Regions from separate parts of the Homo sapiens genome. Here all the other regions are linked to region 2. The links come from fine-mapping of genetic effects on gene expression. A gene starts in region 2. Each other region holds a variant in brackets. All regions are shown on one strand. Distances are between the middles of the regions.

The links. PIP is the estimated chance that this variant, and not a neighbour inherited with it, causes the effect.
Region 1: its variant is fine-mapped to the expression of CDKAL1 in tibial artery (GTEx, PIP 0.94).
Region 3: its variant is fine-mapped to the expression of CDKAL1 in whole blood (TOPMed, PIP above 0.99). The same link has a PIP of 0.9 or more in monocytes.

The regions. Positions count from the first base shown.
Region 1 is chr6:21,198,596-21,203,820 of GRCh38, reverse strand. It overlaps CDKAL1 (CDKAL1 threonylcarbamoyladenosine tRNA methylthiotransferase), which reads right to left. Exons shown (of 16, transcript NM_017774.3): 15 at 2,547-2,711. Among named protein-coding and RNA genes, the nearest start is that of LINC00581, 310 kb to the left of the region's middle. The variant C/T (reference allele first, on the strand shown) is at 2,559.
Region 2 is chr6:20,531,569-20,536,793 of GRCh38, reverse strand. It overlaps CDKAL1 (CDKAL1 threonylcarbamoyladenosine tRNA methylthiotransferase), which reads right to left and starts at 2,337. Exons shown (of 16, transcript NM_017774.3): 1 at 2,220-2,337; 2 at 1,400-1,443. RefSeq lists enhancers at 2,139-2,218, 2,249-2,408.
Region 3 is chr6:21,231,092-21,236,289 of GRCh38, reverse strand. CDKAL1 (CDKAL1 threonylcarbamoyladenosine tRNA methylthiotransferase) reads right to left here. Exons shown (of 16, transcript NM_017774.3): 16 at 3,886-5,198. Among named protein-coding and RNA genes, the nearest start is that of LINC00581, 280 kb to the left of the region's middle. RefSeq lists an enhancer at 4,870-5,198. The variant C/A (reference allele first, on the strand shown) is at 2,487.

The sequences.
Region 1 (5,225 bases), 670 kb before region 2:
GGAGGCTGAGGCAGGAGAATCGCTTGAACCTGGAAGGTGGAGGTTGCAGTGAGATCATGCTATTGCACTCCAGCCTGGGCGACAAGCAAAACTTCATTTCAGGAAAAAAAAAAAAAAAAAAAAAAAAAAGAGGTCAAGTGAGACAAAATAAGTCCAAAGCACAGTATTTTGCTTTAGATGCCAGGGAGACCAAGGTGGGAGGACCGTTTGAGGCCTGGAGTTCAAGACGAACTTGGGCAACAAAGCGAGATCCTGTCTCTAGAAAAAATAAACAGTATCAGCTGGGGCCGAGCACAGTGGCTCATGTCTGTAATTCCAGCACTTTGGGAAGCTGAAGTGGGCGGATCACCTGAGGTCAGGGGTTCGAGACCAGCCTGGCCGACATGGTGAAACCCTGTCTCTACTAAAAATAAAAAATTAGCCGGGCGTAGTGGCACATGCCTGTAATTCCAGCTACTCAGGAGGCTGAGGCATGAGAATTGCTTGAACTTGGGGGGTGGAGGCTGCAGTGAGCTGACACTGCATGCCACTGCACTCCAGGCTGGGCAACAGAGTGAGACTCTGACTCAAAAAAAAAAAAAAAAAAAAAAAAAAAAAAAAAAAAATTAGCCAGGATGGTGGTGCATGCCTATAGTCCCAGCTACTCAGGAAGCTGATGTGGGACGATTGCTTGCGCCCAGGAGGCAGAGTTTGCAATGAGCTGTGATCACACCATTGCACTCCAGCCTGGGTGACAGAGGGAGACCCTCTCTCAAAACAAACAAACAAACAAGAACCAACAAAAGCCTTACTGTTTCTCTTAATGTAAATACCCAAATCAATATTCCTACCCCACTGGCCTCATGCTACAACACTATTTCTAGAGGCTCTAACAGACCAGCAACCAACTGGCTTCCTCATCTTATCCGGGACTTTTGGGCCATTCTGGTTCAGAGCTGGGCTGGTGGTAGAACTGATAACACCATTTTCTAGGCTAGAGGAAAGGATGGGAGAGTAGAAAGGGTGCCCCAGAGAATTTAAACGGAACTGCCCTTTTAGACAGTAACACTATAGTTAAGGAACGAATAGAGGGACACTACATTTCCTTGTTTATGTATTATCAATGGTGATGTTTACAATACTCCCTTTCCAAGAGGCAAACATGAAGGAATTAAACCAGGCAGAGTCTTTGAAATAATAATTTCCCCACTACTGCTACTTGCTGAGAAACCCTTTTCACTGTGGCAATCTAAAATTAACCTTGTAAAACACACTATGTGGAAAAACAAAACAAAACAAAAAATAAGCTGACTTCTTAAAAAATTTTTCAAAGTATTGGCTAACATATCAAAAGCCAAATCTCTAGCAATATAATTTAAATGCCAGGTTACACTGCTCCTTCCTGGCCACCCATACTATCCCCCAAGTACAATTTTTTTTTTTTTAATAAACAGCAAAAATGAATGGTTATGTTTATCAAGTTTTAGAGTTATCTCCTGATCATGCAGGCTGATGCATTTGGTAGGATTTTAACAAAAGCTGGTCTATACCATTCCAGTACGGGTTAGACGGCCATGCACGCAGATCCTTCATGGGCACTTGTGAAGCACATGTGAATTATCACTGCTGTCGGACACAAGAATCCAGTGCCACAGTCAGTGAGAACACAGACAATAGTATTGTCTTTGTTGCTATTGCCAGAGTGAAGCGGTACTATTGCCAGAGTGAAGCGGTATTCCCTTTATTTTAACGAACATGTCCTTGCAATTTATTTTGAGGAACAAGATTATGCACAGATTAAAACAATTTCGGAATTACATGGCCAGATAAATATCAGTTATTTTTTTCCATATGTTAAATCACTGTTATATGCTTTTTTTTTTTAAGCGCTTAACAATTGTGTTGGAGAAAGGACATCAAATGATGCTTAGAAATGTGATACACATTTTCATTTCACACTCCATCAGCTTTTACAACTGTAGCTCAATGAAATGTGAGAGAGCTTGGCAAACGGCCATATTTACCAAGGTATAAAATAGGGGTCAGGTTACTTTTTTATAGAAAGAAAAAAATGTTTAATTTTCACTCCACATGACTAAAGTAGATATCCAGCTAACACCCTTCTGAAAGGCACCATAACTGCATATATGATATGGTTTAGTGCCTGTTCAGCTGTAGGTTTTTACTACAGTATAAACAGCTTTGTAAAGCAAGAAAACACCCCTTTCTTCATCCCCTTCCACTCAGGATCTACTGACATAGAAACATACTGGATCAGATCATCTTTTGGTGTCAACATTTTCACCTGCAAATAATGGCTTTTACCCCCTGCTTCTAAACTGGAAGCAGAAAGAGCTTATTCTCTTTACAGCCAGAGAAGCAAAGCTATCGGCATCAGCAAAAACACATCTTTCTAATTCAGATTTCAATCTGTCAGAAAGGATTAAAGCCTCATGCATACATAAAAAGGGAACTATAAATGATAACAGAAACATGGCCTGGAATCACTGTGCTTCCACAGCTGCTGTTTTACTAGCAGGGTAGAGAGGAGAGCATCTTTTACTTACCTTTGTCAAACC[C/T]GAGACTTCTCCCTTTGCTAGCGGTTTGCTGATGGAGGGCGTGTACACTTTGGCATCAGATACTGGCTGCCCTTTCATAAAATGTTTGCCTGATTCATAGATGTCCACTTCAACCATCTTCCCCATGAACGCAGGGTTCTTTGGCACTAAAACCTTAAACACATTTGTTTCAGAGGCTTAATTTTTAAAAATAAACATTTTACTTTAGAACAGTTTCAGATTTATAGAATTATTGCAAAGATAGTATGGAGAGCTCCTGTATACCTAACTCCCAGTTTTCTTATTATTTACCGTCTTACATTAGTATAGCACTTTTGCCACAATTAATGAACCCAAATTGATATATTAATATTATTAACCGAAGGCATACCTAATTATCCAGGTTTCCTCATTGTCCCTCAATGTCATTTTTCTGTTCTGGGATCCCCTACAAAGTGGACTCTATCTTCTAGCTGCTCAAGGGTCTGCAGAGCCTGCAGGAAGGAAAGGCACTCCTGGGAGGGGCTCCTGGGCCCCTGGGCAGTGCTTTTCCAGTGCAGGATGTGCCTGATGTCCTGAGGCACGTGGAAGGCAGACCTGGGAAATCCCCCAGCAATCAGCCAGCCACTTCTGGACAGGCCTTTGATATCTTGCTTTTGGCTATTCCATGCAATGAGGAAAACCGAGACAATACTGATGAAAGCCTTATACTTTTAATACTTTCCAAGTGAGCTGTCAGAGTAATGGTTTGAAAAGACACTTCAAACAGGCCTGCGTGTTTGTGTCCGTGCATGTGTGTGCTGTGTTTTGAGGGAGAAGGAGGTACATTTAAAAGAACCTTCCAATAACACTGTACACTGCTGTTTGGAGCTAAATGACTCCTGAAACTAACAGCTGCCGTTCATTTCCCTTGCTCTGTTAGAAAAGGCATGTGTTTGTCAGTCCTGGGAATCTACCTCCATCTAGAACCAGTCCTCTGAAGGGTACTTTGGCTTGTTCACAGGAAACTGTCAGGTGGTCTCTTTCCACTAGAGATTCCTGATAAAAGTACTTGTTTACTTCAAGCAAACGTTTCCCTTCCTTTGGGACCCACAGGTAGCTTGTGTGTGTGATGTCTCCCTTACACTTCTATTTTAGCACTGCAGCGACTTGCCAGTCTTTTCAAGTTAGAATCCAAAATAAATAGACCAGTTCTAATCCAGTAATACTTGGATATCTAGATACAATCTTCATCTCTGGAACTCATCTTATTTAGAAAAATAATTCCTAGAAAATCTTTGATATGCTTAGTTATAGAGACAGAAAAGTCAGATGAGAGCCAGGAGTTCCACAGCCAATCTCTCTGAAAGGCAAAATTGAATCTTGGTCTGAGTTTGATTTTTATGACCACTGAGTACACTGCTTCATCAAAGTAGAAGAAAAAGGTCACCTGGGTGGTGAATTACTTAGGGCAGGCAAAAAGAACTAAAAGAGCTTTAGTGTTAGGATATAAAAAGCCCATTTAAATCAGTTTTTATAAAATAAGAAAATCTCTAGACCAAACTAACCCTGGGAGATTTGGTACTATTCTGGGGAAAAATAACCCTCCTTGATCTGCTGCCTTGATCTGAATGAAGGGCTCAGTGTTTTCCCCTCCTCCAGTTTTAATAATTGGAAAAAGCCCGACTGCTTTAAATTGGAGGAAGCAGCTAACGAGGCATGCCACTGCCTTTAAAATGAAGGGAAAAAAGTTCCCTGCTGAGGCAAAACCCAGATGGCAAGAGAAAGGAGAGAGAAGAGGCAACCAAAATGCAATCAAGCTCCTCCCCAGGGCTGAGCAGAAGGTTGGCCTGAATAGGAAAATGGCCCTCTGGGGTATATTAATGAGATGGGGAAATGGGGAAGCGATGCAGGCCAGACATGGAGTGCTGGGAGCCCTTCCTCAACTGCAGTCTCCACCGGTACTGAACAGAGCACGTTTAGTCTGGGCTTTGAAAAGCTCCCCTGTTTCCTGGGGACGCACTGCCCAGTCTGAGATGATTCCCTGGGGAATGTCAATGCTGGGGGCCTCTTCAGCTCCTGCTTTCCTGCCTTCTGACACAGGCAGCCTGCTTCCTCTGCCCATCCCTCATCCGACTTGTCCACCTTGGCCTTCAGCATCTTCTCAAGCTCTAATTCCAGCCATGATCCATAGCAAACATTTTCACCTCTTATCTGATAAGAAAGAAGCAAAAAAGTAGGAAGCTCCATTTGATTTTAATACAATCCAGAATGATCAGTGAAAATCTCCGTACGCCCATGACAGTCTCCCACACAGGCTATCATGAGATGGGAGACACAGGCTACCATAAGATGGGAGAGGAGGGCGTATCCCATCTCTTCCCTGGCCTTGGCCCTTGCCAGGGTCAATGACCCTGAAAGAGGCACTCTCTTTTCCTCAGTCACTTTTGAATTGCTCTCCCACCTGGAGGAGTAGAAACCCTGATGCTGAAACAGAAGTCAGGCTCCTCGGTGGGCAAAGGCAGGCCAACTTAGATGGCCAGGGAAGGAGGGCTAGTAATTGGGGGCGCCCCTAGGGATGGCCTTCAAAGCTCTCACAGTGAAGCTGGTTTGATCCTCACACTGGTCTGCACAGTTGTTCATACAATTAGAGTTGAGTCCAAGGAATAGACTCCTTTTCCTCTGCTCCCAGCATTTTTATTAAGGTAG
Region 2 (5,225 bases):
GCTTTGTTGTCCAGGCTGGTCTCAAACTCCTCCCATCTTGGCCCCTAAAGTATGGGATTACAGGCATGAGCCACCATGCCCAGCCAGAAATGAAAATTCTTGAACTCCACTCCAGACATACTAAATCAGATATTTTGAGTAAAACCTAGCAATATTTAACAGGCCCTCTAGGTGATTTTGATCTGAATTAAAGTTTGATAATCACTGTCCCAGAATTATTCTTTCATAAAAACCACCTAGAATGTATGTCAAATATACATAACCTAGACAATTCAAGGGGGAAAGCGTAGTTTTTTTTTCAACAAATGACACTGGGATAACTGGATAGCAACATGTAAAAAATAAAGTTGGAGCCCTATTTCACATTTCACATCATATACAAAAATTAACCGAAAATGGATCATAGACCTAAATTTAGGAGCTAACATTATGAAACTCTTAGAAAAAAACATAAGCACAAATCTTTATGATGTTAGAGTAGGCCCTTCTTTCTTAGCTAAGAAATGAAAAGCACAAGCAACAAAAGGAAAAACAGATTAGATGAAGAAGATACAGAAATGGGCCAGGTGCAGAGGCTCATGCCTATAATCCCAACACTGGGAAGCCAAGGTGGCAGGATCACTTCAGGCCAGGAGTACAAGGCCAGAGCCTAGGCAACACGGACCCTATCGCTACAAAAAAAAAAAAAAAAGTAAAATTTAGCCGGGCATGGTGGCATGCACCTGTAGTCCCAGCTACTTGGGAGGCTGAAGTGGGATCACTTGAGACCAGGTGGTCAAGGCTGCAGTGAGCCGTAATCGAGCCACTGCACTCTGGCCTGGGTGGCATAGGGAAGCCGTGTCTCAAAAACACACACATACAAATGGCTGATAAGCACATGAAAAGATGTCAACATCATGAGCCATCAGGGAAATGGAAATCCAAACCACAATAATACACCACTTCATACCCATTAGGATGGGTAGAATCAAAAAGACAAATAACTGTTGACAGGCATGTGGATTACATCACCCAGAGGGGAAGAAAAAGAGAACAGAGGTAGGAGAAGGTACAAGACCACGACTTGAGAGACTCCAAATTTAACTGCCAGATAAAGGAAAATCAGCTTATAATGGATTCCAAGAAGCAGCCACCAGACAAGGAAAAAAATCCATGGGCCATGGAAGGCAAATGAAAAGGGCATCTCAAAAAAGTGGACATGGTCAATGCTGGTGAATGAAAATGAAAGGTTAAGTAAAATAAATGAAAATATCTCTTCGATTTAATGCTATGTAAAGCACAATGTTTCCATAACATGATAGTGGCAAATAGCTAAAACATTAGGCTACCTCTCTGCATTTTCTAACATGCAGAAATACGCACAGCACTCAAACATAAAAGGTTTAAAATAAATCAGTACCTTAATTATCTGCAATTAGTCTAAAGTCCTCTTGAAAGATGAGTCTGGAAAATAAAAATTGATTAGGAAAAGTAAGCACCCAAAAAGTTCACAAAACCACTGTAAGGATTCTTTACTTAAAAGGAATCAGACTCCATAAAAGACTGCTTTATACAGCAGGATTAATGATGCTCCATACTACTTGTAACTTCTTACTGATTACAACAGGTGTGCTGACATCTGCCGTGACGGTGATCCAGTGTCTGGCTTTAGTAATAAATGTTGTATTCAGCACCGCAACACGTCTGCATAGTGCGAGTAACCAACCACTACAAAACAGGATTAAGTCAATAAGGTAGATAGACATCCAGATCACGTTCCATCCGAAAGATAACTGTCGTCCCGAGATTCAGAAAAAGGTTTTATGAGCAAAGAAGAACGAAAAGTGAAAAAGCAAGACACCTGCTTTTCTCAATAACTTCTGCTTAAATTCTTAACATACTGATCTGGGAAAGCTATATAACTGCGAAAGCCTTGTCACATCTACAAATTCACTAAGGTATAAAGTGGGAGAACAAATGAAGTTAAACCTGACAATAAGGAACGAGGTGCCTAAAATACTCCTAACTGGAGAGCGGCACCTGAGGCCAACGACCCTATCCTCGCTCCTGGAAGCCCCATCTGCCTCCCAATTCCCCCATCCCAGCTGGCAAATCCCCTTTTAACTGCGAAACAAATTTGCAAACAGCCCAAGAAAAACTGAAACTGGAGAAACAAGGCTTGGCCATAAAAGGAGCTGTGGCCACACTCTGCCCCACATGGACCCATCGGCCACCCTTACCCAGAAGTCGGGAAGTAAAAACCAGTCCAAAGTGAGAAAATCAACCCGCCACTCTCCGGAAGCTGCACAGACTTTAGATGGAGAGCGCCATGACACATACGTCCCGCCACGTTTATTTGCGCATGCTCAGCGACGGTGGCCCGAAGAGATCAAATTACATCATTGCTGAAAGCGCTAGTTCTGGTTTAACTTAGTTTAGGAATGACTACGCTTCAAGTTCCTTTGATTCCAAGAACTAAAATAACAACCCTGAGTCCTCGGGTTCCTAGAAATGCTTAATAGCCAACTTCTCCTAAGCTTTTATGTGTTAGACACTGTGCTAAGTACTTTGCATAAATATTATTCACTATTTATTTATTATTATTATTATTCCCAGTTTACAAAAGAGGACACTGGAAGTTTAAGGACTTAATCTAAGTTACTCTACTAGTCGTGCTGCGCTCTGGGCTGGATCCGATGCTGTCTGACTCCCAAAGAACTTGCTCTTTTCACTGCATTTTACTAGCCTCCTCAATCATTTGTGAAAAGAGGTCTCTTCTTTAATATTAAAAAAACAGGAAGGAAAGGATAAAGGTCAGTTGGTAGGTTTCACTTAATATACATCATTGAGCACCACACAAGTGTTTTTGTTTTTTGTTTTGGAAAACTTAGATGGCAGTTTAGCAGACACCTATGGAAAGAAAATACTTTTATGGAGTACGGATTCTCACCCGCTTTCTCTACATATGTTATCTCACTTTACTATTCGTTACCCAAGACACTGTATTTGACCATGTGTTTACCAGAAGAATATCTTTACTTGAAAAAGTAAAGGTAATAGGAGGCAATAGGCCATGAAGAAGGGTCAGAAATCGTGAGTTTTATGCCTGACTTAGGGTTTCATAGTGATTTGGGGCAATTACTTTGTTTTGCAAATGCCTTTCCTAGTACAATTTCATCTAATTAAAATGCCATCCATCTACTCAAGAGGCTGATGTGGGAGGATCACTTGAGCTCAGAAGTTTGAAAACAGCCTGGGCAACACAGTGAGACCCAGTCTCTAAAATAGATTTAAAAAAAAAAAAAAAAACCACCCTTTTCTCTGTTTATCCATATCCATAAAATAATCTAAACTGTGCCCTGGGGTCCACTGTTGTCTTTACCCACCTAAATTAAAATTGTGTATTTATGTTGCCCTACTTTTTTTTTTTTTTTTTTTTTTTTTTTAGATAGGGTCTTCTTCTGTCACCCAGGCTGGAGTACAGTGTTACCATCACAGCTCACTGCAACCTCTCCCTCCTAGCCTCAAGAGATTCTCATGCCTTAGCCTCCCAAGTAGCTGGGACTACAGGTGCACACCACCATACCCATCTAATTCCATCTCTTTCACTAGACCAAAAGTAGGCCCTGGGTTATCTTCTTGGTTGTAATCGCACTACCTAGCACATAACCTTGTGCCTATGTTTATAGCTTCTCAATAAACATATGTTGAATGAATGAATGAATGAATGAATGACTCCACCCCTTTTCCCCCAAGATCTAGTTGAGTTCAGTAAAAGATATTTTACTGAGTATGTACCCCATGACCACAAGCACTGTGATAGATGCTAGAGCTAAAAAGAAAGAAAAAAAGTACTGCCTATTGCAATTGCAGGCTATTTTGAAAAAATTCATTTCAGTAGAGAATAGCAATCACTATGAAAGATGAATGCACAGGAACACAAAGGTGAAGTAAGGGAAATGGATGAAGGCATTCCAAGCTGGAGAGTCAGCCAGAGCAAAAGCAAGGAGGCCTGAAATGATGAATTATTCCACAGTGTAAAAGCAAAGAGAGTGAAGCTGGTGATGGGAGAAGTCTACCAGAGAAAGGGAAGCACAGGGACTAGATCAAGGTGAACCTTGTGTATTCAAAGGCATTAGACTTAATCCTGGATGTATGTAGTAGGCAACATGAATGTGTTCGAGCAGATTATTCTCTCAGGACAATGGGTTTGAGGACGATATTTCAGACATGAAGAAATAGTAAAAGCCTAAATTGAGTTGTTGGCTGGGAGGAATGGGAAGGAAGGACAGATTTAAACAAATTGAGGAGGTAACAGCAGCAAGACTTGGTGATTGATAGGTACGAAAAAAGAGGAAGAAAGGATGTTTTCAAGTTTTGGCTACAAAAACTAACTAACAGGTGAAACCTCTCTCTTTAAGCACCTTTAGTCTAAATCCTTTGAAGTCAGTAACCCTACCTCTAGGAATTTATCTTACAGAAATATACATAATGACCTATGTTCCAGAGTATTTTTTGAAGCATTGCTTACAATGACCTATGTTCCAGAGTATTTTTTGAAGCATTGCTTACAATGACCTATGTTCCAGAGTATTTTTTTAAGCATTGCTTACAATAGCAAAAGACTGGAAACCCTCTCCGGCTCCTCCTCAATAGAGTATTGGTTAAATATATTTATAGTATCTGTACAACCTTTGAAAAGCAACCAGTAAGTCCGGGTGCAGTGGATCACGCCTGTAATCCTAGCACTTTGGGAAGCCGAGGCGGGTGGATCGCCTGAGGCCAAGAGTTCAAGACCAGACTGACCAACATGGTGAAACCCTGTCTCTACTAAAAATACAAAATTAGCTGGGTGTGGTGGCATATGCCTGTAATCCCAGCTACTCAGGAGGCTGAGGCAGGAGAATCTCTTGAACCCAGGAGGTGGAGGTTGCAGTGAGCGGAGATTACACCATTGCACTCCAGCCTGGACAACAAGAGCGAAACTCCATCTCAAAAAGATTAAAAAAAAAAAAAAAAGGCCAGGCACGATGGCTTACGGCTGTAATCCCAGCACTTTGGAAGGCTAAGGTGGGCGGATCACGAGGTCAGGAGATCAAGACCATACTGGCTAACATGGTAAAACGCTGTCTCTACTAAAAATACAAAAAATTAGCCAGGCATGGTGGCATGAGCCTGTAGTCCCAACTACTCGGGAGGCTGAGGCAGGAGAATCGCTTGAACCTGGAAGGCGGAGATTGCAGTGA
Region 3 (5,198 bases), 700 kb before region 2:
ACATGGATCCTTTAAATTAGGTTGTATCATAGAGCAGAGGTTTTCAAACTTTCTTGATTGTTTGTACCCCTAGGCCAAAAGCAGCAGCTAACCTTCTGTTTAAATAGGTAATCCTGACAACTGAATAAGCATTTATATCCTACTATCTTATGAGAACCGTTTGAAAAAATAATACATGTAACTTAGATAAAAATATTAATATTTTATTTCATATTAATTTTACTTATTAATGGCAGCTGTGCATCTGTTGGGTACAGCACCCCTTCTCAAACCTTGGACTATGATCACAATTTTCACTTCTTGTTCCACATTGATTTTCACTTGATACTTGCTTTTTATCACAGCAATTGCTGAAAATCCAGTTTTATAAAGACATGGTGTCATCAAAATTTGTGAAATCTAACGTTGAAAACTGTGAACTATTTTGAGCTGGTAGTTGGCCTGGTATCTGACAGATGTTGCTGTGTTCCCTCCAAAAATTTAAGGAATCCCAGGGTGCTCCTGTGAATGTGCCACAGCATCCTGGGGTGCCTGGGGGGACCAGCAAACCTTTTAGAAAACGTACATATTCATTTTTTATTGTGAGTATTTAAGGTGAACATGTATTGATACACATATACACAGCAAAATGGTGGCTACAGTCAAGTGAATTACCATACCCATCATCTCATATGATTACCTTTTTTGTTGTTGCTGCAAGCCTTAAGAATATCTTTTCTCCTTTTCTTTTTCTTCCTTTTCTCTCCCCTCCTTTCTTCTCTTCCCTCCCTCTCTCTCTTCATTTTTTTCCTATGTTTGTTTTATGATGACAAACCCTCTTGAAGCTTGATTTGTAACTCTAATTCTCCCTCCATGACATCTTACAATATACACTGAAATTTTCAACCTGGAGTGAAGTCAGTAGAAGTAGTATATGTTTTGACTGAATGACATATGGAAATCTGATGTTTAGACACATTTTCCCAGCAACAAAGCAAAGTTTTAACCCAAGAATTCTTTACATTCTCAAACTGACTATCTCATGCTGGGATGATAAGAAAGGAAGCAGGGATGATAAGATGAAGCAGGGACAATAGAAAGGAGGGAAAGAAAGAAGGAAGGAAGGAGGGGGCAGGGCAAAGAAAAAAGCTTGATTAGTAAATCTTTATTTAAAAAGTATATCAAGTACCATGCACATTCTTGGAGCAGGACAACACAGACTGAAAGGCTGAAGGCCCCCAAGCTCAGGCATCCACAGGATTGATCCTAAATGTGTATCTGTTGGCACAGGTCAAGTTTAAGTCAAAGATGGGACAGAGGAGCAGGAGGAGTTTACAGAAGAGGAGTATATGCTTTGGAGTCAGGCTGTGTACCAGTCCTGCCTCTAAACTTAAGAGCTCTGTGCCTCTTGCACAAGTTACTTAGTCTTTTGAGTTTTAGATTTTCTTCTCAGTATGATGGGAATCACAATACGTATCTCAAAATTTTTTCTTCAGGACTGATTAACACCTGTTAAGTGCAAAGTATAACATCCAGTGCATTTCATTTAAGGACTAGACAGTTAATGGTTGTCAATATTATCATTACTATTAAAATAGGAATGACTTGTGGAAGGGAGACAGCAGAGACAAGGTCTGCTGAAGAATATCTAAGGTCCAAAGAGAAAAAATAGTGGGAGAATGACAGAATTCATGTCAACTGCTGGTGGGGATGTAAATTGGTACAACCACTTCAGAAAACCATTTAGCAGTATCTAAGCTGAACATATGCAAATGCTATGACCCAGCAATTCCACCCCTAGACATGTACTCCTCACATCATCACATAAACACTTAACAAAACGTGTTTATAGCAGCATTATTCATAATAGACAAAAAATTGGAAAGAACTCAAATGTAGAATGAACAATGTGGTGTACTCATACACTGAAATACTATTCAGCAATGAACGTGAAGTAATTACTGCTCACACAATAATCTGGATGTGTCTCACAATCACTGTAGAACAAAAGAAGGTAGACATGAAATAGTGCATACTACATGATTCCACTTATAGAAAGTTTAGAATCAGGCAAATCAATCTGTAATGTTAGAAATAAGGATACTGGTTACTCCTTGCGGGGCAGACTTAATGGCTAGGAGGGTACATGGGGAGCCTCCTGGTGCTGGCTACAATGCTTGCTCAGTTTTTAAAAATCCCTGTATCCCTATGATTTATGTCCATTTCATATGTATGTTTTATTCTAGTAAAGAGTTTAAGAAAAAAATTGGCCAAAGCATTGAAAAGATCACTTCATAGGTTTCCTTCTCAGCAGAGAAGTACACACACACACACACACACACACACACACACACACACCCCTTGATACTAATGCAAAGCATACAAAAGCATACAAAGAAAACATAACAATTACATTTACAATCTGCGGGTCAAGCATCCTATCACGGCTGACACTTCGTATAAATCAGGTTACGAATGCTACGGCTACGACCCCCAGATGCCGGTGG[C/A]TTAACACAACCACAATATATTTCTGGTTCCTGATGCCTATGTAGCACATGCTGGCCAGGAGCCCTACTCAACTGTACTAACTCAGGGACCCAGGGTCGGGGAGGCGTCATTCTGACATATGGGTCCAGGATCACCACAGCAGTGGGAAGAGCACACAGTAAACCGTACACCAGCTCTGAACATGTCTGCCCCGAAGAAGGACGTGACCCTTCCGCTCACATTTCACATTTCGTGCCTAACTTCAGCGGGGCGGGAGAAGCGCAGTTGCACTGTGGGCAGGAAGGAGACAGGCTGGAAAAGTAACAGCTCTACTCATGATCACACTTGCTCCCGTGGTTCCCAGACTCAGCCCCATTCAGAGTCCAGGGCTTAAGAAAACTGTTTTTAACTTGCACTGCATCCTTCTCTGCTCTCTCCCTCCCCCTCCCTAGAGATGGAGGTCACAGGGGGAAGAAAAACCCTGGATTTCCAGAACACTGCTACCCCTCTCACCAATTGGTCGCCAGTATGGAGACTGATTTCATGAAGGTCCAGCGTCTGCTGCGGGCAGTGACCTCGGTCCCTTTCTGGGTCAAACGGCAGAGTGAAGCTGCAGCCAAATTGAGGGTAAATAACAGTCACAGCAGGAAGTAGGGAGAATCCTGTACAGCTGAAACGATCCTTGAGGATCCCTGCCATGGTAGGTGAGAGCAGCAGGGGGGGAATTTGGATGACTGGGTGTATCATTCTCTTACAGGAAGAAAAAAATGAAAAAAGGCGAGGACAGCATAGAGCTAGAAGGGAGGAAATAAACAGATGAGGGAGTGAGGAAAAGAGTAGGGAAAGAGAAAAGGGAGGTAGAAAAAATCCTTTTTGTCTCCAATCAGTTACAGGTGTAAAGCTTTCTCTATGTCTGATCTAGTGCAACTCTAGGCTTTGGATGGCATTTTTATCTCTGCTAGGTTTTTGTTAAATGAGCACCACACTGGAACCCACTGTTTATTAACAAAGAAATGACTGCGTAGAGCTCAAGAAGGGAGGCACATGGTAGGTTCTTGTCCTCTTCTCATTCCTGCTAAGAAGTGAGGGGTGCTCCCAAGTGGATGTTTCACTGCAGGACTAGAAGCAGCACAGGAGGATTTTTGCATTCTAAATGTGAGCACCTCTTAGAAGCACATACCAGTTCCAGGAGAAATGTACTAACACTAAAAGCATATATATTTTATAATTTACCAACTAGGACATGACTGAATTTTAATTTGGGTTCCTTAAAAGACACACAAAACACAAACATTTTGAGTTAAATGTAAGAGCTGAAGAGGGGTATGGGTTTCGAGATGGAAAATATCCTATGGTAACTACACGGTACCTGGTTTTCCTGTACCTATGCAATCCAAATAAATTCTCAAAAACATAGGATTTGCTTAGTATACCAATTCTATTTATTGTTAAAGAAAGAAGTCACTTCACTTAGTAAAGACCAATGATGGCAGGTAGAAATAAAAACATTTAATCTGGGCTGGGTGGAGTGGCTCACGCCTGTAATCCCAGCACTTTGGGAGGCTGAGGCAAGAAGACTGCTTGAGGCTAGGAGTTCCAGGCAAGCCTGGGCAACATAGTGACACTCATCTCTACAAAAAATTAAAAAATTAGTTGGGCATGGTGGTATATGCCTGTAGCCCCTGGCTATTAGGGAGGCTGAGGTAGGAGGACTGCTTGAGTCCAGGAGGTCAAGGCTGCAGTGAGCCAAGATAGTGCCATTGCACTCCAGCCAGGGTGACAGAGTGAGACCTTGACTCAAAAAAAAAAAAAAACAAAAACAAAAAAAAAACCCCAATGGATCAAAAATGTGAGAAAATGGGCACAATTAGTTTTCGACAAATCCAGTTTTCCAGTTTCATATTTCACAGAATGTTGCCAGGAGTCCTTTAGCTGGCAGACTCTCCCCGTGCATTCCAAAAGCATTCAGGTTCCCAGAACAGGTTTCTATACACTTTTCAGGAACACATCTGCTGTGAAAAATACAATGTTTGTAGCACTGGGACTCCAAACAAAGCCTGAAGGGGAAGATGCACTTAAAAATATTTATTAAAGAGGCCGGGCGCAGTGGCTCACGCCTGTAATCCTAGCACTTTGGGAGGCCGAGGCGGGCGGATCACTTGAGGTCAGGAGTTCGAGACTAGCCTGGCCAACATGGTGAAACTCCGTCTCTACTGAAAACACAAAAAAATTGTCTGGGCTTGGTGGCGCATGCCTGTAATCCCAGCTACTTGGGAGGCTGAGGCAGGAGAATCGTTTGAACCCAGGAGGCAGAGGTTGCAGTGACCTGAGATCGTGCCACTGCACCACTCCAGCCTGGGGGACAAGAGCGAAACTCCATCTGGAAAAAAAAAACAAAGAAAAAGTTTATTAAAGATAGAAAATTCTTCCACATGAGGAAAAGATGGCCAGAGCCACTGTACAATTAGGTTCTGACTTAAAGATTAGAGATTGAAACAAACAGAAAAAAATGCAACCGCTTGCATTTCTTGCTAAAAGTAAACCAAAAGCAGTTTAATTTGAAGGATGTGCTATGGTAGCGGTGATTAGGTTTTAGGTCAAATAACCAATGGGCCCAACTCAATGTGAGACAGGGGGAGCCTCATTAAGAAGAGTGGCTGAGAAGGAGGCAGCATGACCAGTACAAATTATTGCCCTTGGAGAATGGAGATGTCGCTTTCCTGTTCATTGAA